5 separate regions of the Homo sapiens genome follow, and all the other regions are linked to region 1. The links come from fine-mapping of genetic effects on gene expression. A gene starts in region 1. Each other region holds a variant in brackets. All regions are shown on one strand. Distances are between the middles of the regions.

Region 1 (5,107 bases):
GGCCAGGACTTAAACAGGATAGGTGGTCAAAGAAATTTAGTTGAATATATCCATAACTCCACCAAAAACCATTTTTAGAGGCATGGCAGGATGGGAGGTTGATTTATTCTTTATTTTCCCTCTTTGTCACGTATATGCTAGTCTCACTAAAATATTTTGTATGTAGTGATGAGCTCTGGGTTTGGAGATAAAGGACCTGGTTTCAGATTCTGTCTGCCTTGTATTAGCTGTGTAGCCTTGGACAAGTCATTTAATTTATTTTTATGTAAGTTTCTTCAACTGGAAAATGGGTAGGAATACCTGTCCTAACCCCCCACAGTGTTGTAGTGAGAACCAAATGAGATGATGCTTGTGAAAGAATTTACCAATCTGTAAAGCACTGTGTAATGGATTATAAACACTGCCTCCTCATGTGCTTACCCTGACACGTTTTATGCTTTCATCCTTCTAAGAAGCAGTTGTTTGTGCATGGGGATCACCTGGCATTCTTGCTGCAGCACTCCATCATAACCCTCAGCACAGAATGCAACATACAGTTTGCCAATCGACTTCAGTGGGATGTGAAAAGTGAAAAGTGCATTTAATTCTCACTAAGATGCCTTGGCTCAGATTCAACAAATGCCATTTACTTGAAGGCCTTTTATTTGCTTTTTCTGCCTGCCCCCCTGCCAAAATCTTCATCTATTTGTTCATTTATTCATTTACTCATTTAACATAATTGTTTTGAGTGCCTACCAGGGTCATGTTAGACACCCAAGAAGTAAAGTGAGTACTTCAAGATATTCACGTTGTACTGAGTGTAAGACACACAAAAACTTACAGTAGATAAAAGAACTATAATAGGATATATAGGATACACTGTGTACAGAGGTAGGAAAGATCATTTTTGCGAAGTGAGGGAGTGTGTGTCATGAAAGGCTTCAAAGGAGGTGCTAGTCTGTCTTCAAAACTAAGTAGCAGGAGAAGGTAGAGGCGATGCAGGTGAAAGAAACAGCTTTCACAGCAGGTGAAAGAAAAAAAGCGCTCTGGGAACCATTGTTAGCTCAGGCTGTGATTTCGTTCATTCTATTACAGTGGGTTAAATTACCTGTTGTTTGCCAAACCCTATACCAGTTTATGGGGTTACAGGGGTCAGTGTAGGCATCATGGGGGCGGACGGTGAAGTAGCAAAGGAAAACCAGCCACAGTATGAAGAGCCTCGAACAACCATTTTACTCCGTGCCAGTACACATGGGAAAGGGTTGAAAGGATATGTGAACCTGCCGCCACCAATTCCTTGATTATTCACTGGAACCCTTTCAGCCAGAGAAGATAGACACAGTACTGGGCTTTACTGAGGACTGGGTGGCGCTGTCTTTAGGGGCAGGTTAATAATATACACCTAAGTGACAAGAACACTCACACCCGAGGAAATTAGAGTAGTAAATAGACACGTGGAAAAATGTGCCATCTTATCAGTAATTAAAGAAGCAAAAATGTAAACAAAGCGGCACCTAGTAAGGTAGAAGACAAAGCAAAATATCTAAGGCTGTTAAATAATGGGGAAGCAGGCGCCTTAGAAAACAAGGGCAAATGTAAAAAACCTCTAAGGCAAGAGTTCGGTGGGGAATCTGCGGGATTCTGTGTGCTGAAGCGCAGGAGGCACGAGTCACCTTTGCAGTCTCCGGTACCAAACGGGCAAGGGGTCCCCGTAAGACTGCTGCACCCTGGCCGAAGGTAGCGGGTGAAGCGCCTCGGCGTCTCTAGGCAACCGATCAGCCCGCCCACTCCGGGGTGACTTCCTCGTAATTGGCTCTCGAATCCACCAATGGGCGCACAGGGGGAGCTTCCCGCCACCTCTGGCGCCCGCTTTCAAACAGCCGTACTTTGCAACTGCAGGTGGACTTCTCAACCAAGCTTGAGGAAGGCGGAGACTTCTGCCTCCTCGCTCTGCCCTGAGCTGGCACGGCTCCGCCCACCGGGCGAGCTTCTAGTCGGCGATTGAAGGATGCGAGTGCTCCTTAAGGGCCTCCGCCCCGTGAGTTCGGTTGTGACTAGGAAGGAGCTAGTGGACTAGAGCCAGGGTAAGGGGATCTGCTAGAAGTTGGTCTTCCGCCAGGACTAGAGTTTCCTCGCGGTAACAGCCTCCGTGGCCTCCGGTAAGTTCTGATTCACGGGTGAGCTTGGACCTGGGGTTAGAGGAGTTGCGGGGTCCTCGGGATGCTGGCTGAGGGTTCCTGGGGGGGCTGACCTGCCCCCTCCCCAAATCCCGCGGTGGTGGACTGCCCGCATGTTGCGGGCTCAGCTTTTACCTTAACGTGTCATTTAGACCTCTTCATTCCTCCAATATCCTACTTAGAAGTGACATATGGGAAGCCCGCCTCGTTTCCAGGCTGCTGGGGTCGCCCTGAGACCCTACTCTGCGGACCCCGCCTTGGTCACCCTGGCGTCACGCCTGGCTCACAGTAGGTGCTCTGTGCACGTGTGTTGACCGAGTACAAGTGACGCTGGCACCCGAAGCCAGTAGCCCCGGGCATCCTGGGCCCCGTGCGGCTTTGGTCATGTTTGTAGTGCCGTAGCTGACGCCAAACAGTTCCTCAAGGTCATTCGCTCAGCCTGTGGATGCTTATTGTGTATTAGCATTACTCGCTCCGCCCTCTGGGCAACTTGAATCAATTTGTCCAAAGTGCTGTTATTAGCACTGATCACAAGATGTTGTGATCATTTGTTTATATGTCTATTTTCTTTCCCTTCATCGTGTCCTGTTAAACTTTGTAATCTTGAACAGTGCTTGGTAAATTGTCGAATGAATGAATAAGGTGTCTCCACCAGGTGTTGCAAGTCTAAACCGGGCTATGTGCTCTGGCTATTTCCATTCTAGAAGGCGAGTTATGTCAGCAAGTAAGTAGAATTTCCCAACTCCAAGTGCAGTTCTTAGAAACCCCTTTTGTGGGGGTTTATAACCCTTCCTATATCGTAGTCATGAACTTGAGTCTGATTTAAGCCTATTATCACCTTATACCTTCATAGTGCGTGACAATGAACATGCACTCCCTAGACAGGTGAATGCACTCAACTAAAGAGAAGCTGAAGTTGAAGCCATAAGAAAAGCATAAGAAATACAGTCTGAAAGTGCAAAGGAGTGGCCAGCTCCATGGGGGAACAGGCTTGGGAGGGCATCTTGAAGGAGGGTGGCATTTTTGTTCCATAGGAGGTTGCATTATTAGAAGTGACATTTCTCATAGGCTGCACATTCACCTTTTCTCAGATATGCGGAATCCTCTTTATTCCCTAAACCTCTTCGGTAGCTGGCAGACTCCTATTCATCAGTAATAATGTCATAATAGTAATAAAACTACAATGTATTGATTGGTACATAGTGCTAATTACTTTACATGTAGTATCTTGTGAATCCTCAGAATCAATCTTTGAAGTAGGTATTATTTTTACCCCCATTTCTTTAACGTAGAAGCAGAAACAGTTTGCTCAAGATTGCACTGCTGATAAATAGAAGAGCCAGAATTGAGCCCAGGTTGTCTGAATGAGTGCCCTCATTCTTAGAACCACTTATAGCCATATTGTGTCCTTTAAGATTTATTTCTAATCTAAAAGCTCTTTTTTTTCTGTAAAACTTCTCTAAACTATCCTTTCTTCTTAGGAAAAGTAATTTGTGCTTTGTACTTTCATCTACTACGGAATTTATTACAATATGTTATTGTAACTGTTTATATCAGTGGCTCTATCTAAGAGAGGGTGAGCAGAGACAGTGAGCTCCTCATGGCTGGTACCATGTCTTAGGTGCATCTAGGATATGATCTGGAACACAGTGGGTATTCAATAAAATTTTATTGAAGTAATGAATTCGTATAAGGTAACATGCCTATATCATATTCAGTCAACAAATATTTGTTATGTACCCACCATGTGCAAGCAGGCAGATACATTTTAATTCTGCCTTCAGGGTGCTTATAGTTTATTAGATGAAGCAAAAACAATGCTACTTTTGCTTTGTAATCTTTTGTCCAAATACCCATTGCTTTTGTTGCAAGGAGGGCAGAGAAAACAACCGGGGACAACAAAAGGAATGCTGGGTCAGAGCATCCATCTGAGTGTAACAACAAGACATACTTTTTATAGTCTTGTTAAGGGTTCAGAAAAAGTTATCTAGGAAGAAAGTCTACCAGACTGCTATTGAAGAAGAAAACCAAAACATACTGTATACTTAATCTGCATCTTGATTTCTCAAGTGGTCAGCCTTGAGTCAATAGATATAGAAAATTTTCAGTATTTTTACTAGTGGCATAGTATTGACAAATTAATTCAAAATAATTTTACTAGTGTAAATGTTAATTTTCAATATATTAATATTGATAGTTTTCAAGATGGTTTAGCAGTTGATATTTTCACCAGCAACTCATGAGCCATACAAAATACAAAATAGTCACCACTGGGTGATAACAAGTTTTTTTTTTGTTTGTTTGTTTTTTCAATCTAGTGGTTGAAAATGGCATATTGTTTAAATGACACTTCTTTGAAACATCACGAGCTTAAGCATCTTTTCAAACTAATTGATTTACACTTTTTAAAATAAATTGTCATGTCAGTCGCCCAATTTTATATTGGATTGTCTTTTTCTCATTTCTTTGTAATAATTTTATATTGGGACTTTGTCAGGTGCTTTGCAAATTTTTTTTATTCTTATTTTTCTTGACTTTGTTATTGATGTATTTTTTCATATATAATATTTGACTCGTTAATGATGTCTTTTGCCTTAAACAAAATTTTATTTTTTGTGGTTAGGTTTCCATCACATTTTTCTTTATGGCTTTTGGATTTACTATCTTGCTATTTTTTTTTTTTAAAGAAGTCTCTTTTGTTGTTCTGAATATTATACTAAAGTCTCTGGTAGCAGTGATAATGAGTGGTGATTAATAAGTTAAGGTATTAGCTTTTATTTTAAGTCTCATTTAAAATATGTATTACCTTTTTACTATATATATTTTTAACCACATTAAGTTGATCAGGTTTCCCTTTATGTCTGAAATCATTTCTTAAAGTCTTTTATAGTTTATAGTTCTGATAAGGAAAACTTATACCTTCTTCAGTGGGGGAGATTTTGGTCTTTTCA
Region 2 (5,107 bases), 19 kb after region 1:
CATGTATCTATATGAACAGGTATATATAAATGAAACAAGTTTCACAAAATAAGACTGTTTCTTACTACATGATGCACTCTGATATATTCTCTCTCTCTTTTTTAATCCTAGTCACAATTCACTGAATTGATTTCATGATGCTCTAAAAGGTTGTAGTCACAGTTTGAAAAACACTGCTTTAAATGACTATAAATTTATATTTTGGTATGTTTTTATCTAATAAATTGTCTTTAATTCCCAGACTCTGCAGAAAATATGCAGATTATTCAACTTCAGGTTCTTAACAAAGCAAAAGAGAGACAACTGGAGAACTTAATTGAAAAGTTAAATGAAAGTGAACGTCAAATTCGATATCTGAATCACCAGCTTGTAATAATAAAAGGTAAGATGCTGGATGCTGTCATTTATGAGGTACACTGAGTTAGATATCTTGTTTCCAATAACCTCAGATTACATACGAAGCTTAGAGAGTAAAAACACTTGGTCAGAGGGCTCATAGTGAGTGAGGCATAGCAAAACAAAACCCAGGATTTCTGAGTGTTGGCCTTGGATTACTTCTCTTTGGAACACGCTGTTTTGGAGACCAGGCATGGTGGCTTACGCCTGTAATCCCAGCACTTTGGGAGGCTGAGGTGGGCGGATCACTTGAGATCAGGAGTTCAAAACCAGCCTGGCCAACATGGTGAAACCCTGTCTCTACTAAAAATACAAAAATTAGCGGGGCATAGTGGCAGGCACCTGTAATCCCATCTACTTGGGAGGCTGAAGCAGGAGAAGGAGAATCACCTGAACCTGCAGGCGGAGGTTGCAGTGAGCCGAGAAAGCGCCATTGCACTTCAGGCTGGGTGACAGAGTGAGACTCTGTCTCAAAAAAAAAAAAAAGACACTCTATTTTGGAGTCCCTATATTTTCCCTTTTCTCACTTAGGCTTTTAGAATCATTGAACATTATTTAACTGTACTGATGGCATTCTGTCCTAAAAAGTTGTTGATTCCTTATGTCTGATTCCTTATGTCATTACTCTGGATGAAGTATTCCAGCTTTCAGAGTGATTTGTGTTTAGTTTGCACTGCAGCGTTTCCTGAGGCTACAAATTAGCATAAACGTTTTAATCCAAATAAGAGTTAGTGATTGTGAAGTGCCATGTCTGGGATAAACACACAGAGTAAATACAGATTCAAATTATAATTGCTTACTCCTTGTGCTTTCTCTAGTTTTGGTCCACGTTGAACTTTCATTTGCAGAATACTTTTGTGATTGAACTCTAGCTCATTTCAAATTTAATTGATGGTAAAAATGTCTCTTTCTGTAATGCTCATAACATTTATTTTGAGAGAAGAACTTGTGAGCTGTTATAGCAAAGTATGTGGGAAGAATTTAACATTAGGTGAATTTAAGAGTTCATTCCAAGTGGGTCGGGCACGGTGGCTCACTCCTGTAATCCCGGCACTTTGGGAGGTCAAGGAGGGCGGGTCACGCGGTCAGGAGATCGAGATCATCCTGGCTAACATGGTGAAACCCCATCTCTACTAAAAATACAAAAAATTAGCTGGGTGTGTGGTGGCGCCAGTAGTCCCAGCTACTCAGGAGGCTGAGGCAGGAGAATGGCGTGAACCTGGGAGGCGGAGCTTGCAGTGAGCCGAGATTGCACCTCTGCCCTCCAGCTTGGCGACAGAGCGAAACTCCGTTTCAAAAAAAAGAGTTCATTGCAAGTATGTGTAGGATAATTAGTCCTCAGATAACTTCTTTGATTAGCAGGGATTTGTCCCCAAAAGGGATGCAATAATAGTTTTAAAGGAAGTAGTTCTGCTTCTCTAAAAAAATTTTTTTGGTATCAGGTTTGTTTTTTTTTTTAATTTTTAATTTTTAATAATTTATTTATTTGGGGCTGGGTGAGGTGGCTCACGCCTGTAATCCCAGCACTTTGGGAGGCCAAGGTGGGTGGATCACTTGAGGTTAGGAGTTCGAGACTAGCCTGGCCAATATAGTGAAACCCCATCTCTACTAAAAATATAAAAATTATCTGGGAGTGGTGGCAGGTGCCTGTAATCCCAGCTACTGGGGAGGCTGAGGTTGTAGTGAGCCAAGATTATACCACTGTACTCCAGCCTGGGCGACGGAGTGAGACGCTGTCTCAAAATAAATAAATAAGTAAGTAAGTAAATTCTTTATTTAGTTTTCTCTAAATCAACTAAAGTTCATTTTTCTGAATTAAATTTAATTCAACAACATTTATATATGATACAGACGTGACATCTGATTGGGATTGTGACATTGGGGTCCCTCTACAGGAACATTATTTATATAAACATTTTTAATACCGTAGATGAAAAGGATGGTTTGACTCTCAGCCTTCGAGAATCACAGAAACTCTTTCAGAATGGAAAAGAAAGAGAGATACAGCTTGAAGCTCAAATAAAAGCACTGGAGACTCAGATACAAGCATTAAAAGTCAATGAAGAACAGGTACCTATTTTAACTTATGTATGGTAAAAAAATTAAAAGTTTAGTTATTTAACAAAACTTTTTGTAGGGTAGGACTAAATTTAGAAGAACTTTGAAGTTATTGACAAAGCATTAGAACTTAAATTTCCTGACTGCAATAGTTTGCTTCAGAATTGGTATCCCGAGAAGCTTTTATTTTTATTTTTCCTGCTGCTTCTCCATTTGGAGAACTGTTTTTTAAACTTGAGTTTAAAGTGGTGACACATTCACATTCTTTGATTAATGAGATAGCCATTTGATTTTTGGAAATAGTCATAAGTCATTGGTAGCTAAGCCTGGTGGTGGTTGATTCATTTTTTGGCAGGGGGCAGGGTTAAAAATGAAAGTGATGGCCGGATGCAGTGGCTCACGCCTGTAATCCCAGCACTTTGGGAAGCCGAGGCGGTCGAATCACCTGAGGTCAGGAGTTTGAGACCAGCCTGGCCAACATTGTGAAACCCCGTCTCTATTAAAAAGTACAAAAATTAGCTGGGCGTGGTGGCAGATGCCTGTAATCCCAGCTACTCTGGAGGCTGAGACAGCAGAATCGCTTGAACCCAGGAGGCGGAGGTTGCAGTGAGCTGAGATTGCTCCATTGCACTCCAGCCTGGGGGACGAGAGCGAGACTTGTCTGAAGAAAAAAAAAATGAAAGTGACTATGAAATAATGAGCTTGGTTTTGAGTGAGACTTGTAGCTAAG[T/C]CTGAGGATGGTTTAATGAAAGAGTTTAAACAGTGTTGTCTCATGTCTGGCTTCTCCTCATCCTTCAGGTCTTAGCTAAAAACAATTACCTTTTCAGAGGACTTGCTATTCACTTTATATGTAAGGTAGCCCATAGCTCCATCCTCCAACTCACCTTCATCATGCCATATTCTATTACTCTATAACTATCTGAAATGATCTCATTTGTTTACTTGTTATTTATTGTCTCTTCCCACTAGAAAGTAGTAAGAGCTTAGACCTTTTCTGTTTGGTCATTATGTCCTTAGTGCTTAGAACCCTGCCTGGCACAAATGATCTGTGTCATTCAGTGGATGGATCTCTTAGCCATGAAAGCAGTATTGGAATAAATAGGCAATCTCTGGAATAGAATGAAGAATAATTCTCTTGAAATTTTAATTTTTGTATGTAATGTAGATTATTTTTAACTTTTTGAAAACCAATAGTTATTAGATTAAAAAGTTAAGTTGCCTTTATGTAGTAAAAGGTTATAACTTTGTAATCTTTTTTATGTAAGCAGCAGAATCACCAAGTGTATTAGTTTCCTATTGCTGCTGTAACAGATGACCACAAATTCAGTGGTTTAAAACAATACAAATTTATCTCACAGTTCTGGAGGTCAGAAGTCTGACATGGATCTCACTAGGCTAAAATCAGGGTGTCAACAAGGCTGCATTGCTTTCCGGAGGCTTTAGGGGAGAATCCATTTTCTTGCTATTTCCAACTTCTAGAGGCCACCTGTGTTCCTTAGCTTGTGGCCCATTTCCATCTTCAAAGCCAGCAATGAATGGCTGATTGAGTCTCTCTGGTTCTGACTTTTCTGCCTTAGTTTTTCTCATTTATGGACCCTGTGGTTACATTGGGCCCACCTGGATAATCCAGGCTACTCACCTTATTTTAAGGCAATCTAATTAGCCATATTAATTCCACATACAATCTTAATTTTCCCTTGCCATGTAATATAACTGATTCACAGGTTTTGGGGATTAGGACACGGTCATTTTGGAGGGCTATGATTTTGCCTACAATACCAACTGTGCAGTTACAGCTTTGAAAACTTTGTTTTTAGTAAGTGACCATTGGCAGGTTTCATCAGTCTTTCAAGGAACAGTTGTCATTTTTCTGTGACCTAACAATTGGGTTACCCCACACTTTGGTCATAGAGCAATGCAAACAGCACTGGGGCCATCACGGCATCAGCAGATTCCGTGCCTGATAGCCACATCCATCATGCTGCGCAAAATCCTCTTTCACTCCCCTCAGGTATCTACCAAATGTATTTTCTCAGGGAACATTGTTTCCAACAACTATGGGCCTGGAGGGTCCCAGCTAGGGTTGTTTTAAGGAGCTTGAGCCATGATGAGCGGAGACCCCTTCTCTACTCTCATTAAAACATGCTTGAGTTTTATTTTATAGTAAAAGTAAAAGTTTATAGACAGCACAGAGCTAAAATACTCTGTGTATATTTTAAACATGGATATCCTGTGTGTATTTACTAGATGATCAAGAAGTCCAGAACAACTGAAATGGCTCTGGAAAGCTTGAAGCAGCAGCTGGTGGACCTTCATCATTCTGAATCACTTCAACGAGCTAGAGAACAGCATGAGAGCATTGTTATGGGCCTCACAAAGAAGTACGAAGAGCAAGTATTGTCCTTACAAAAGAATTTGGATGCCACAGTCACCGCACTTAAAGAACAGGTTGGGATGATTTCAAATGAGCAACTGTTATCAACAAGTAAAGCTGGTTATGTTTTGTAACTGATATTTTATGGTTCATCATATAGAAGTCTTGGATGTTTGTAGTAAATGTTAGATTGTGTGTGAGGTGAGTGAAACTTAAAAGCCAGTGATATTGGCTGGACGCAATGGCTCACGCCTGTAATCCCAGTACTTTGGGAGGCCA
Region 3 (5,107 bases), 39 kb after region 1:
TTCATCAAATTAGGAAAAATTTGGCCATTATTTTTTCAAATATGTTTTCCATCCCTCTCCTCTTCTGGGAGTTCAGTTACACATGTTGGAAAATGTAATATGTTCTGTGTATTTCTGTTTTAGTCTTTTTTATCTTTGTTTTTAATTATATAGTTTTATTTCTATATCTATGTGTTCACTGATCTTTTCTTCTGCAGTTTTAAATATGCTATTAACCCCATCCAGTATATTTTACATTTCAGATATTATAATTTTTTCTATAAGTTTAATTTGAGTCTTTTCTGTATCTTCCATTTTCCTCCACATATTCATATCTTCCTTAACCTTCTAGAACATATGAAATATATTAATTCTATTGTCTGTGTCATTGATGGGTTAGTTTCTATTGATTGGTTTTTCTCCTGGTATGGTTCATATTTTTTTCCTACTTCTTTCTATGCCTGATAAATTTTGATTGAATGCTAGACATTTTGAATTTTGTTTTGGATGCCAGATATTACTGTATTTTTAAAAATACTGTTGTACTTTTTCTGTGACACACAAGTTACTTGGAATCAGTTTGATCCTTTCAAGGCTTTCTTTATAGGCTTTACTACATCAGGTTTAGAAAAGGCTTTAATCTGGGGCTAATTTTGCCCCACTACTAAGGTATTATTTGATGCCCTTTAAATTAGGAAGTCTTTGCATTATGGCTCATTGAAACATAACATATTCCCAGCCTTATTCATTTCCTATGTTTTTTTCCCTAGCCACTCATACAGAACAGATCTCCAGAGCTCTTTTTCTGTGCAGCTTCTTTTTCCCCAGTATTTCTTCCCTTCATATTCTAGCCACTCTGGACTCCCCAAATTCTGAATTCTTTCTCTGAAACTCAGTGAGATTACTGGGCTCTGTTTGGGTTTCACCTCCCTGTGCTATGGCCTGGACACTCTCCAGGCAGAAAGCTGGGGTAATCTTAGAGCTCACCTTGTTTGCTTTCCTTTTCTCAGGAATCCCTGGCCTGTGCTGCCTGTTGTCTAGTGATTGAAAACTATTATTTTATTTGCTTTATTTGGTTTGCTAGTTTTTTAAGGAGGAAGATAAAGGTTAGTCTTGTTAATTCATTACGGCAAGGAAGCAGATAATCTCTCAATCTTTAAATTTATTGAAACTAAAATTGGGTTTAAATTAGCATGGTTTTATTTTTGTGTTTTTCTAGTTACTCAGATATTCACCCAGACTTGTGTTTTAGTAAGTTGAAAAAAATAACAGAAATTGTTGGTTAGGATGGCTAGTGTTTAGTATTCTTTTCTTCCTTAATATTTATGTTGTTTCTGTTAGAGTCATAAAGGGCATGTATATACAGCATGCAGTTTTCCAATAACACAAATGTAAATTATGTCAAAGTTCACATTTCTAAGCTACTTACAGTGAGCAGCAGGACTAAGCTTGAGAAGGCTCTTCCTGTGAATAAACGTATTTCTGTATATAGAGACATGGCAAAGGTGATAATCCTTGTGTATGACAACATTTAAAATTGTTTTGAAATACTAGTATATAATTGTATAGGTGACAAAACATGTTCACCACTGTGGTCAGTGCTTTTAGGGAATAACCATGTCTGATTTATTACTTGATTTAATGTTAAAAATCACAATTTCTCCATTAGCATTGTACAAGAAGAAGACCCAAATGAAGAGCTTTCAAAAGATGAGTTCATTCTGAAGTTAAAGGCAGAAGTACAGCGTTTGCTGGGTAGCAACTCAATGAAGCGTCATCTGGTGTCTCAGTTACAAAATGACCTCAAAGACTGTCATAAGAAAATTGAAGATCTCCACCAAGTGAAGAAGGATGAAAAAAGCATTGAGGTTGAGGTATGTAAAGCCTATAGAGTTAAAAAACCATTTTTAAAAGGCTCAATAAAGAAAACTTTTACACTTTTTTTTTTTTGAGACAGGGCGTCACTCTGTCTTCCAGGCTGGAGGGCAGTGGTGGAAACATGGCTCCCTGTAGCCTCAACCTCCCAGGCTAAAGCGATGCTCCCACCTCAGCCTCCTGAGTAGCTGGGACCACAGGCGCACGCCACTATGCCTGGCTAATTTTTAAATTTTTTGTAGAGACAGGTTCCCACAATGTTGCCCAGGCTGGTCTCAAACTCCTGGGCTCAAGCAATCCTCCCACCTCAATCTCTCAAGGTGTTGGATTACAGGTGTGACTAACCACATCCAGCCCTTTTACATGTTTTTAAATTAATAAACCTTTGGCTTTCAGGAGTTTATTTGACATTTTTAGAAATAAAGTTTAAAGAAGGAAATGCCATTTTTAAAGGGATACTGACAGTCCCTGACTTAGGATGGTTTGACTTACAATTTTTAGACTTTACAGTGGTGGAAAAGTTATGTGCATTCAGTAGAAACCATATTTCAAGTACCTGTAAAACAGTTCTGTTTTTTACTTTCAGTACAGTGTTCAATAAATTTCATGAGATATTCAACAGTTTATTATAAATGAAGCTTTGCATTAGATGACTTTGCATAACTGTTGGCTATTATAAGTGTTCTGAGCACATTTAAGGTAGGCCAGGCTAAGCTATGGTTTTAATAGGTTAGATGCATTAAATGCATTTTTGACTTAATGATATTTTCAACTTATAATGATTTTATTAGGTGATAAACCCATTGTAAGTTGAAAAGCATCTGTATGTTTTTTCTGGTTACTCTTGGCACCTAGTAAATGAGATACCAATTAGGTAAAATTCCTTTACCATAAATACAAGGAAGTATTCTCTGTAACAAGGAATCTGCATTTCTTTAAGATTGGCTTTTACCAATAGTGCTCTAAAATCTAGTTAAAATAAATCCTCCATAGAAATCCTGTAGTATTTTCTATGAGATTTTCCTGGCCCATGTTCTTACAACAAAAGTCATTCTATATGAGGACATTAATTATATAGTGATGATGGTACAGATATTATATAGTGGTCGTGGTACTATGGGAAAGTACACAAAATCTGGTTTTGTCAGTCATTGAAATCCACCTCTGTATTCTTCAGTTCGGAAAATGAAGCTGGAGCACTTTGTGACACTTTTGAATTTACAGAGCCAATTTCAGACAAATTGAAACTAAAC[A/C]CATGACTAATAAGTAAGTCAAAGATATTTCTGTAAGATCATGCTATCACAGAGATCTTTAGGGCTGCTCTCCTTTATAGATCCTTTTTTTTACCCTTCCATATTTCACAAATCATCAGCCATCTATACTCCCAATAGAAAATAATATATAAAACACCTAATAACTAAGAAAAGCAAAAGAAGAGGGAAAAGGAATGTGGGTAGTATACTCCTTTTCCTCCTGGGTGGAGATAATTGTTTACTTCCTTCTTTAGTACTGTTTTATCTCCTATTTAAACTAGGAGTTGTGTTCATTAGAACAGTTCTGCTAAAGTATGTATAATATTCTGTGCTAATTATTGTGGAATTTTGATTGTGGTTAATTTTTATATTTTGGAAAAACAGTGTTTTTGCTATCAAAATCTTTTCCAGCCTGATTCCCTCTTCTGAGTAACTACATTTGATGACTAAAACATAGATTTTAATATTAACAGCAAATGAGAGAGACTCCTCCCCGCCCTGCCCCCTGCACATTTAACATCTTTAAATCAAGCTGTTTTCATTGTTGCCCTACATTTCTTTAAAAGGATGGGAATGAAAGCTTGTTTCTCAATTTGCATTAAGACATTAGAGTTTATTAGTTTAAGCATTTTGGTGGGAGTGCTCTAGGATTTAGGATACTAGAAACCTGATTTTGAGTCTGAACCTTAGCTCAGATATCTTGGTGCTTTCTTTGTTCTGTATTAAACTTGCTAATGGCATTTGCTATACAGATACACTTTATCATGTGTAGCAGTAGATAGTGGTCATGCATTGTACTGTTTTTTAGCCTTCCCATTTTCCTCTGTAGTCTGGTTGATCAATAGATCAAAGGAATAACTATCTCATCTTTGAGTATTCTTTTTGTCCAGCTACTCTATTGCCATAGTGAATTCTCGGTAGTGTACATCTAAACTCCAATTTTTCTCAAAGTTACTTCAGCTGTGGACTCAAGTGATCTGCCCACCTCCACCTCCCAAAGTGCTCGGATTACAAGGATGAGCCACTGTGTTGTGGCAAAGAGCTCAGAGTCCAGGTACACAACAAGTGAAACGGAGTAGATATATTTTTAAAATCTTTGTAACCCCCATCAATGAATAAAAAGAAAAGTAGATAAGGAAAACTCTCAGAGGAAAATATGCAAAGTTAAATGAACAGATAAATCTGGGAAGGTGGAAAAACAAATGAACAATGAAGGTATATAAGAGGTTCCACTTTGGTGGTGACACAAGAAATACAAATGAAAGCAATTGTTAGATATTCTTTTCCCATCAAAGATAATTATTTAAAGATAATCACTGCCATTGGAGGCAAAGAGAGATGGGCAGACCCATGTACTACCTGACAGTATACATTTGGATGACATTTCTGGAAGGCAATTCGCCAAAGTCTATCATGAGTCTTAAAAATTGTATGTATTGAATAAAATATATGTCCGTGAGTGAATGCTGACATAAATGAATACATACAGAAATAGAATAAATGCTTGATCTTAGTAGGAGAACATATGATGAGAAATAGGATATTTGTATTGTCTCAAAGTATCCTATAAGATACTTATCATTTATTATAAAACAAAAAATAGTAAGTTTACAATGGAGATGACAGATCCCACCTTCAATTGATTATTACCAGTGGTGAGACATAGTGATATCATGTGTCTCCTGCAAAGAGCACATATCAGTTCTTGACATGCATGCCAAAGATGCATAACCTGATTTTAATAAACCTAAAAACTCCAAATTGAGGAACATCCCACAAAATAACGGGTTAGTATTCTTAGAAAACATCATGGGTTTGAAAGACTGAAGAGCTGTCCTAGATTGGAGGAGACTAATGAAACATGACAACTAAATGCCACTCAGAATCATGGATTTGATCTTGGACCAGAAAACAGACATTTGGGGCAAATTGGAGACATTTGTATAAGGTCTGTAGATTACTTGATAGTATTGCATCTGTGTTAATTTACTAGTTTTGAT
Region 4 (5,107 bases), 84 kb after region 1:
AACAACTGATTGTTAATGTTCTAGGGTGATACAATGCTTATCAAAACATGAGTTTCTACCTTCATGGTTCACACTCTAGTCAGGGGAGACAGTAAATACACATAACTTATGTAGTATGTTAGAAGTTGGTAAGTGCTATGGAGAAAATAAGGGCAGGTAAGGGTAAAAAGAGGAGTAAAGAGGGAGTGGTTACAAATTTAAATAGAATAGTGAGGGTTGGTCACGCTGAGATGGTAACATTTGGGTAAAGATTAGAAGGAAGCCACTCTAACTCCACCATTCCTTCTGTTTCCTGCTTCTGGAACTTCTCTTAGACATAGCCCCATCCTCGTTTCTCTTCATTGTTCTTTTGTATACTTTTATTTTTCTGTGCTACTTTGTGGAGGTCTTTTTTCACTGGAAGTACTATCTTCCAGTTTGCTAATTCTGTCTTTGTTTGTTTAATTTATTGAGTTTTGAAATTTCACTTCCGGGATTTCTAGTTGGTGTTTTTACACCTAGACTTTTTGTAAAATTTCTACCTGTTTAGTAATCTTGTTTTCTAATAGATTCTATGTATTTATATTTTTAAAGACTAAGAAATTCTTAAAGTTACTTCTAGAGTAATTTATCATGTCACTTGGGAGTGAGTTCATATCCAAATTGTTGCTTTTTGTTTGTTTGTTTTTGCCTTACACAGAATTAGTTTCCCCCACGCGTGTGGAATTTTGGCTTGCAGTCTAACTTGCAGTCTAACAGTGAAGAAGATTTTTTTTCTCCTTCTGAGTTCTCTCCCACCACTGTCTAGTTCTTTTGGTTGCCTCCATATGGGCTCCATATAGTACCCAGTCCAAGACTGGGTCTTACATAGGTGATTTCTGATCTAGTGGGGCTATTCTAAAGCTAGTCACTGAGCCAGCAGGCAGCTTGGCCCAGTTCCTGGCTGCAAAGCTCTGCCTTTAACCTCTAGGCTCTCTAGATACATAGTTTTAATATAACTTGTGGCCTCAGGTGGAGAGTGTAGCTTTTTCAGCCTCCCTGAGGTAAGGAACCCCTACCTGGACTACTGCTTTAGACAGCAAGCTTGTCCTTTGTTCCTTTCCTCAGTTGGATGCTTTTAGTCCTTATTATTCTGCAGAAACTCCTGGCCACCTTTACTACTTTTGGTTTTTTTTTTTTTTAAGCCGAGTCTCACTGTGTCGCCCAGGCTGGAGTGCAGTGACGCAGTCTTGGCTCACTGCAATCTCCACCTCCAGGTTCAAGCGATTCTCCTGCCTCAGCCTCCTGAGTGGCTGGGACTACAGACACGCACCACCACTCCTGGCTAATTTTTGTATTTTTAGTAGAGATGGGGTTTCACCATATTGGCCAGGCTGGTCTCGAACTCCTGACCTCAAGTGATCCACCCACCTCAGCCTCCCAAAGTGCTAGGATTACAGGCATGAGCCACCGTACCAGGCCTACCTTTACTACATTTAGATACAGAACAGGTAGTACCTTACTTTTCAAGTCCTCAGGGACATTTTGTGTTTTAAAAGTCTTTTTTCTCTATATACTTTTTCCATCATTGTTATATGTTGGTAGATGTTGGGTCCTTCCAAAGTGTAAACTTAGAATGCCATCAAGGACCTAAAGTCTGCTTTGTCATTAGCTCTGTGTCTTAGCTGTTTCTGTAGCCTGTCTGGGCCTCAGTGTTTGCTATTATTAAGGTTTAGGCATATGATTACCTAAAGATTCAGGTAAACCAGATTTAAAAGTATGTGAAGGCCGGGCGCGGTGGCTCACGCCTGTAATCCCAGCACTTTGGGAGACTGAGGCGGGCCCATCACCTGAGGTCAGGAGTTCAAGACCAGCCTAGTCAACATGGTGAAACCCCGTTTCTACTAAAAATACAAAAATTAGACAGGTGTGGTGGTGGGCGCCTATAATCCCAGCTACTCGGGAGGCTGAGGCAGGAGAATTGCTTGAACCTGGGGGGCAGAGGTTGCAGTGAGCCGAGATTGTGCCATTGCACTCCAGCCTGGATAAAAAAGCGAAACTCCCTCTAAAAAAAAAAAAA[A/TA]ATAAATAATAAAAAAAAAAGAGTACATGAAGAATAGTGAGATAGGTAAATTGAGGCTAGATCATGATCATGGATGGTCTTGGATGTCAAAGCCAAAGAATTCGAAATTTGGTTCATAGAAAAGGGAGAGTTGTTGAAGTTTTGGTAGCATGATTTAGAGAGATTAGGGAAGCCATATAATAGGAGGACTTGGAGGAACAGAGCAAACAGCCAAGGAACCAGGAGGACAATGTCCAAGGACAGTCAGGCAAGGAACAAGGCCAGAGCCAGGGTAGATGTGGTGGAAATGAAGAGGTGACAAGATTGAGAATATGACACACCCATGCTTCCAGGACCTACTGAGAAGGGATTTAGAGCCTGGGTGTTTGTGAAGATGACTCTGCTATCAACAGTACTGGAGAATCAAGACAGGGTGGATTGAAGGGACCATGCTCTCCCTTGAGTACTGAAGTGCACAGTCCTTTGGTGGGCACAGTCATGAGAACAACTAATTTACAGATGCTAACTTGATGATGAGCATTGTGCCAAGCACTTCACTAACTCCTTTAATCCTCACAACAGCTTTTTGAGTGAGGCTCTGTATAAGCACTTTATGGTTGGCTAAAATCAAGGCTTAGAGAAGATAAGTAATTTGTTCATGGTTAACACAAGCTTGCAGCAGGCAAAGCCAAAAGTTATACCCAAGTCTTTTTTTTTTTTTTTTTTGTCTATGAAGTATGTATTATTTTGGCAAGTGATTTTTTCCTTCCTAAGAATAAGATGAACATGTCCAAATGTTACCTGTGCCAACTTCACAGATACAGAAGTATCTAGTCTTCATTTCCTCAATGCCCCAATTAGATGGTTCTAGTAAACGAATCAATATAGTTAAAAAAAAAAAATACAGGTTCAACAAAAGAGCACCATCCTATTAGGGAACTGAGTAACATGTGAAAATGAAGTTGTCATTATAATCAAAATGTTGCCCAAATTCTAACAAACCCAAGCTGTTATACTAGTACATGGACGCAGTCCATAGTGTTAACCTAAAGAACTCTGGGACAAGAACATTATTTGAAAAATAAACTCCAAAATTATACCTGTAATAAATGGTGAGACAGACCAATTTTAAAGCACAAGTGACATGTTACACTGTATTGCTTCTTGAACTTTCCAAACAATGCTTGTCCATGTCAGGTTTGGGCCATTCTCCTGCTAAGACAGAGAGCATTGTATTTATTCAAAAGCCCAGATTTCAATATCTTGGATAAAGAAATCTTCCTTCTTAGAAAGTGTACGATTCCCAAACGTTTTACAAGAATGGCTTCTTGCATGGTAGAGATCTCCATCAAGCCAAAGGGCAAATTCTCCTCCTCCACCACCGAAAGCTAGTGAATCCATGTCTCCTTTGATAAAAAACATGTTATCTCCTGTCCACTTAAAGACCTCAAACTCTGGACAGAATGTAAAAACAAAGGTCTCTCCAGTACCATAAAAGCCATCACTCACTTTAAATGGCTCAGCTGCTAACGCACCAAAAACCTGTCCATCACTGTCTTTAATTACCATCAGCACTGGGGTGTCTAAACCTGTCATTGTTCGATAAAGAGTTTTCAAGCAAGCTTGTGCCATGTTTTCCAGTACCATAAACAAGAGTCCGTGGATAGCCAATTGTTCTTGGTGGAAGATGCTTGGTAAGCTTTTCAATTTGATCTGGCAGTAAACTTTTCATTTGAGAATAGGTTTAGGTTTACCAAAAAGTTGCAAAGATATACAGAGTCTCTATACCTCTCACCCAGACTCCTCTGTTGTTAATGTCTTACATCACTATGGTAACTTTTTCACAACTAAGGAACCAACATTACATTTAAATATAGATGTATTTTTTTTTTCTTGTGACGCTAGAGGCCATGGCTTTAATCCCTATACTGTCTTTATTTGGTTTGGCTTACAGGTGAGCTGGAATTTATTTTAAAGGGGAAAGTCCTTTTCTTTTTCCGCTCCTTCCACTTCCCCTCCATGCTTCCAAGCAGGAAAATGAGTTCAGCAGGCTCCTCCACATGTGAAATCAGTTTAACTTGCTTTCTCAGCAGGATGTAGACGAGCAATAGATCTTGCTCTTTAGCAGGGATTTATAGAATATGACATTATATGAAGATTATGCTGCAGCTAGAAATTTACCAACACAACAGGAAAGCCTGTAATATTATAGAACCACCTTTTGTAATTTTAAAATTCAACGAGTAATGGTTCATCTTAAAAGAAAAAAGATATTTAGAAATTTTCTAGTAGTAAATATGCGATTTTTAAATCTCTTGATATAATTGTAACAACTTTTCCCCTTAAGGACCAGACCAGGAAATTAATTAGAAATCAAAATAGTAAAACATCATTAAATAGAAACTTTGTTATTTTCGAAAGTAAGATAAATGAATTGGCTTCTTCCACAAAGGTCAGCAATAATTTGGAAACTTTGAGAACATGTTAAATCTTGTGCTCTTAAAAATGTTGTCTGATGAGTAAATTAAGTAGAATCAACAAAACTTTTAAAACTTATTTTTGGTTTTGGTTCAGGCATAGCCCTTGTCTGAAATATTTCCTCATTTCATTTCATAATTTTATCAATCATGTTGTATATAGAATGTACTGGATGAAATTCTGCTTCTTATATTTTCTTGACCCTGTGCTCTTACACAAACTGTTTCCCTAGGAACGGTTAATAAAAATTGAAACACCCTATTTCACCCTATTCAATAAAAGTTGAAATATCCTATCTGTGTAAGAGCACAGGGTGAACTCAATACATGTATTATCACAGTGACCCTGTAGCTGTCAATGATTTCATTGGCTACCAATTAGTTTTCCTGGAAAAGTTTTTAAAAATGTAGTCCAGTGTCGCAATCTACTCTGAAAGGTCTTCAAGATTATTCATTAAACATGACAATGGATCAGTTATCATATTAAGCCCTATACCTACACTTTTGTCTTAATCCTTCCAACAATTTTTCAAACTAGGTCTTATTATCCTCATTCTATAGATGAGAAAGAAGGGAAGGAACTTATGCAAAGAGTCTCATGTGGCTGAACAGG
Region 5 (5,107 bases), 56 kb after region 1:
ATGAGGAAATTGAGGCTCAAAGAAGTTGAGGAATGGGCCTTTAGTTCTTCAGCTGGTAAGTTAATTCCAGCAGTTTGTCTCCAGATTCTGTTCTGTTAAGCATCTGTGCTAGGCTTCCTCTGCAAATTGGTGTCAGGATTGGAGCTTAGGTTTTTTGATTTCGCTATTACTTTTTAGTTATGTACTACCTGTTTTTTTCTGTGATCCACTAGTTCTATTATTCTGTCATACAAACAAATTAGACTAATGAAAAATGACTTTTTCTGTTTGGTATTGTCCTTTAATGAACTGTTCTAGCCACTAAAAGTGCATTAAAATACAGTTACACTTATCAGCAAGTAATTATGCAGGTGTGTGCTATATTCCTAAGTAATAGTAAAAAATCCTTATGAGTCCGCTTTTGCTTTAGGTAAAAGATACTTAATTTGTTGGGGGCACAGATAAAATTTGAGATTGTATCTGTATTAAGAAAAGTAATATGAAATTTTTTCTCACATTAGTTTTGGCTAATTATATAATTATATGTGTGAGTGTTTATGTGTCTATACATACATATAAACATATTTATGTATATATTTTGACCAATTTTAGTGTAAGTATAGTTTTTAGAATAATGTCTTATCTAAAATCATGTTTCCTTTTAATTTTGATTTTACATTTCCTAGCTTCAGAGGTTAACCAAAATAGTTACCTTAATTTTTTTGCGAAGGAGGAGAATCATAAAGACTTTCAAAATGCATGTTGTTATGTTCTTTAGATATCATTTGCTGTTTCTGAAGCTAAAGAGAAATGGAAGAGTGAGCTTGAAAATATGAGGAAAAATATACTTCCTGGAAAGGAATTGGAAGAGAAGATTCATTCTCTTCAGAAGGAACTTGAGTTAAAGAACGAAGAAGTCCCTGTGGTCATCAGGGCTGAGTTAGCTAAGGCTCGGAGTGAATGGAACAAAGAAAAGCAAGAAGAAATCCACAGAATCCAAGAACAAAATGAGCAAGATTACCGGCAATTTTTAGATGATCACCGAAATAAAATTAATGAGGTGCTTGCGGCAGCTAAAGAAGACTTTATGAAACAAAAAACTGAACTACTTCTTCAGAAGGAGACAGAATTACAAACTTGTCTAGACCAGAGTCGTAGAGAATGGACTATGCAGGAAGCCAAGCGGATCCAACTGGAAATCTATCAGTATGAGGAAGACATCCTGACTGTACTTGGGGTTCTTTTAAGTGATACCCAAAAGGAGCACATCAGTGATTCTGAGGACAAGCAGCTTTTGGAAATCATGTCGACTTGTTCTTCAAAATGGATGTCTGTGCAATATTTTGAAAAACTAAAGGGCTGCATACAGAAAGCATTTCAAGATACACTTCCTCTGCTTGTAGAAAACGCTGACCCAGAATGGAAAAAGGTATGTTCCTGAGAGTGAGAGAAGGTATTGAACACCAAGAATGATTATAGAAGTTGTATATAGTGTTTTTTCCTTTTTTCCTTTTAAATTTTAGTAGATGTAAGTCTTATGTTTTTGTCAGTGGTTTAAAAAAGTTTCTGTAGCGAAATCCAAAGGTTTGCATGTTTCGTTGCCAAAAAACTTTACTACTTCATAGTGTCACAAATACAAGACAAGATTTTAGCCTCTAAATATCTTTTTCCTAAAGAATATTTAGGACAAATACCTAATGCATGCGGGGCCTAAAACCTAGATGACAGGTTGATAGGTGCAGCAAACCACCATGGCACATGTATACCTATGTAGTAAACCTTCACGTTCAGCACATGTATCCCAGAACTTAAAATAAAATAAAGAATATATGCTGTTCTTTCTAAGGGCCTGAGATTTCAGAAACTGAAAATTTTTTTTTCAAAATTCTGTTTTCTGGGCCTGACCACTTCATGAAATATGCATAATAAGAGTTTCTTAAAAGCTTGTAAAGAGTTTGGAAGCCTATTTATTGCCCTCAATAAATTTATGTCTCATTTAGGCAAAAAAATGCCAACCAAGTACAAAGGTATTGATATAGAAACAAGCAAATAAATACGACTCACTCGCATAAAACTCTGAAGCCCAGTTTCTGGATGTACTATATATGTGCATATAGAATTAATTATATTCTTTTAGTTATATAAGTACTCTCTGAGACCAGCTTTTAATTTGTATGAAAGTTTCAGTAAAACCAAA[T/G]TCTTGCTACCTTATGATCAAAGCAATTAGGTATGCATGAAAGATCCAGAATGATATTCTGAGCATGGTGATTAGCCAATTTCAACATTTGGGATTAGAGGCAGGAAAAAAAAAAAAGCCAGTATTATAAGGTTTGTCTAATAGAGTTGAGACTTAAGAGTGAAGTTCCATCAAAATATTGTGATTAAGGAGTTTCAAGGCCAGGATTGAGCATTTGGTATTAATACCTACTTGGGAGAGTTATAAACTAGAAAAAATAACCTTGAGTTTCAGTTCCATATTCGATGATAACTAGATTATTATATTGGGCAATCACATAGTTGCTCACTGGAAAAATAAAATACAAATCCCCGGCCTAATTCCTTGGGTTTGGGTAGGATATGCATGGCACAGCTTAGCCTTTCTGGGTCCTGCATTTGAAACAGTATAGAATTTTAGAGCCAGAAGGGACCTGAAAGATCAGCTCACTCCATCCTACTTCACCCCAGTTGATATTTTTATCCTTGACCTCACAAAGATGTTGCTACCGAGTAGTTGCCTTCAATGTAAAATTTACTGGGCAAGATCACTTCCCATGAATACTGCTTCACACTTAATTGAGATTTTTTGGAGAAAATAATTAAAATAACTTGGAGAAAACATATAATTAAAAAATTATAGCAGATTTGGAGATGAGAAATGATGGGAAAATCATGTTTACATGCTTTCGTTTGTAAGCATGTTTCGATTTTTATAACAGTTATAAAATCTGTTATAAAAATCAAGAAACTATGACACCTTTCTCCTACCATTAATATATACATATAAAATCAACCCTGGAGTCTTTTTACAGGGCTTATAATTGTGCAAGCAGTATAAGATCATCTGTGTGACTTAATGAGGCTCATAAGTCTATGGAGACAGAATCACATAATCTGGCTAAGAATTTAGATGTTTACGGCTTTTGTTGGGTGGGTCAGATTCCATTCCTGAGAAAAGGATGGCTTTGAAATGCCTAATCTGGAATTTGTCATAGAAGTAATACTTGACCTTCTGCCATTTTCGAGCTATCTTCACTCAGGACCTTGAGGTAAAGCTATGATTATAGAGCAGTGATTTTAAATTTGTTACATAGGTGCTGTAAATGTGAGGAACTATAATTTATAATTTATTAACTCTCTAGTTTTAAAAATTGTTCATGGAAATTAAAACAAAAGATGGTTTATTAATATATAAAAACAAGTCCTCATTAAAATAACTGAGACAATCAAAAGTTTTTTTAAATGGAGAGGATGCAATGAATGAAAAATATAGCTTTCAAGAAAATGAATGCCATATCAAAATATATTAATACAGTAGTTCATAACAGATAAAACAAATATCAAATGGAACAAAATTTTCAAGCAAACTTAAGGATGTATGTTGTCTCTTTTACCATCAAAGTCAAGTTAAAACTGAGACAAAAAGGTTGTTGCTTTTCTCCCTTTTCTGTTATCTTGACTTTTCTTCCCCAGTTTTGAGTAAAAACTGGAAGCACTGACTGCATTTTGGTTCAGCTTTTCCTACTCCTTTTGACCTCAAACCCATAGCTTCTTGATTGCCTCTTCTCTATAATTGCTAACCTCTGCTTCTGTTGGACATTGTAAGTAGGTTTTCTGACAGTCAATTAAGTGGTTTCTCATAATCAAAATCAAGGCTTCTAGAATCAGGCATATATAGTATGTTTTAAATAATCAGTAAGACTACTTTCTCCATACCACCTATTCTGTTCCTTTCCGATTTAGTAGTCATCTTAAATCTGAAAACATTACCATAAAAATCCATTGATTTGGCTGAGCGTGGTGGCTCACACCTGTAATCCCAGTACTTTGGGAGGCCAAAGCAGGCGGATCACGAGGGTTGAGGCAGGAGAATCGCTTGAACTGGGAGGTGGAGGTTGCAGTGAGCTGAGATCGCGCCAATGCCCTTCAGCCTGGCCGATAGAGGAGGACTCCATCTCAAAACAAAAACCAAAAATGAAAAATCCATTGATTTAGTAGCTGTATTGCTGTGACAAGGACTGGAACATAAAAACGTTCAATAAATATTAGTGAAGAAATGGTCTTGTGCAAGATGTTTAATTTAGCTAAGCCTCAGTTTCTGTCCTTAACTTTGGCATTCAGCTGGCCTTCCTTACAAAATTACTGTGTATGTTAAAGTATTTAGAAGCATATGAAGTACTATATAAATTTAAAATGATTTTTAACTGTTATTTTCAATTCATAGGAGGCAGAGGGTTAGCATTATACTTGCTAATTAACTTGTTCCTTGCTGTAGTAAAAATGTTCTAGATTTTCAAGAACAATTCTGATTTTATATTGTCTTTCATGTGGTTTAATCACGTAAACCATTGAAAAATCTCAAATTCACATATATAATGTGCAAACCATATCTTCTGTCTGTCTCATAGCTGCCCACCAGTCGCCTGTCAGACAGTGTTCTTATTTGGAAAGTTTCATAGGAAGCTAGTTCCTAGTACAGTGACAGTACTTATATAACACCCTAAGAAAAATATTGGCGATAGATAGTTCAGGCAAGATTTTTTTCAGGTAGTGTTTTCTCTTTGTATTTTTAATATTAGCATTTTAAATATAAAATTGTATAAAGATTTTTACTAAGCATTAACTTTGAAGATACTTTATTTCAGAGAAATATGGCCGAGCTCTCTAAGGATTCTGCCAGCCAGGGCACTGGCCAAGGAGACCCTGGACCTGCTGCTGGACACCATGCTCAGCCCTTGGCCTTACAAGCAACAGAAGCAGAAGCTGGTAATTGGATTTTGTTCCCACCAGTCTTTGTAGCATCCATAATCACCCATCTGAAGGGTTGCTTTGAGGATAAAAGGAGATCATAGATGTGAACAAATGGGTAATAATCGTCTGACTTAATGTCCCCTCTTCCTAGATTTCATTT

Direction of the effects. Positions count from the first base shown, and alleles are read on the strand shown. Sizes are in standard deviations (SD) of each study's normalised expression. Not every link is listed here.
As copies of TA replace A in region 4, the expression in monocytes after LPS of the gene that starts at base 2,030 in region 1 goes down (large effect, 0.85 SD a copy in Quach 2016).

Evidence for each region.
Region 2: its variant is fine-mapped to the expression of CEP152 in whole blood (TOPMed, PIP above 0.99).
Region 3: its variant is fine-mapped to the expression of CEP152 in whole blood (TOPMed, PIP 0.98).
Region 4: its variant is fine-mapped to the expression of CEP152 in monocytes after LPS (Quach 2016, PIP 0.95).
Region 5: its variant is fine-mapped to the expression of CEP152 in whole blood (TOPMed, PIP above 0.99).

Annotation. Positions count from the first base shown.
Region 1 is chr15:48,807,992-48,813,098 of GRCh38, reverse strand. It overlaps CEP152 (centrosomal protein 152), which reads left to right and starts at 2,030. Exons shown (of 27, transcript NM_001194998.2): 1 at 2,030-2,138. It overlaps LOC124903487 (a long non-coding RNA gene), which reads right to left and starts at 2,401. Exons shown (of 2, transcript XR_007064626.1): 1 at 2,292-2,401; 2 at 1,190-2,168. RefSeq lists enhancers at 1,601-1,660, 2,319-2,880, 5,103-5,107 and a silencer at 1,836-2,026.
Region 2 is chr15:48,788,596-48,793,702 of GRCh38, reverse strand. It overlaps CEP152 (centrosomal protein 152), which reads left to right. Exons shown (of 27, transcript NM_001194998.2): 7 at 242-382; 8 at 2,327-2,466; 9 at 4,702-4,902. Among named protein-coding and RNA genes, the nearest start is that of CEP152, 20 kb to the left of the region's middle. The variant T/C (reference allele first, on the strand shown) is at 3,185.
Region 3 is chr15:48,769,233-48,774,339 of GRCh38, reverse strand. It overlaps CEP152 (centrosomal protein 152), which reads left to right. Exons shown (of 27, transcript NM_001194998.2): 13 at 1,649-1,853. Among named protein-coding and RNA genes, the nearest start is that of CEP152, 39 kb to the left of the region's middle. The variant A/C (reference allele first, on the strand shown) is at 3,108.
Region 4 is chr15:48,723,978-48,729,084 of GRCh38, reverse strand. It overlaps the pseudogene LOC645405 and a transcript of CEP152 not described here. Among named protein-coding and RNA genes, the nearest start is that of FBN1-DT, 81 kb to the right of the region's middle. The variant A/TA (reference allele first, on the strand shown) is at 2,039.
Region 5 is chr15:48,752,204-48,757,310 of GRCh38, reverse strand. It overlaps CEP152 (centrosomal protein 152), which reads left to right. Exons shown (of 27, transcript NM_001194998.2): 20 at 758-1,408; 21 at 4,842-4,962. Among named protein-coding and RNA genes, the nearest start is that of CEP152, 56 kb to the left of the region's middle. The variant T/G (reference allele first, on the strand shown) is at 2,177.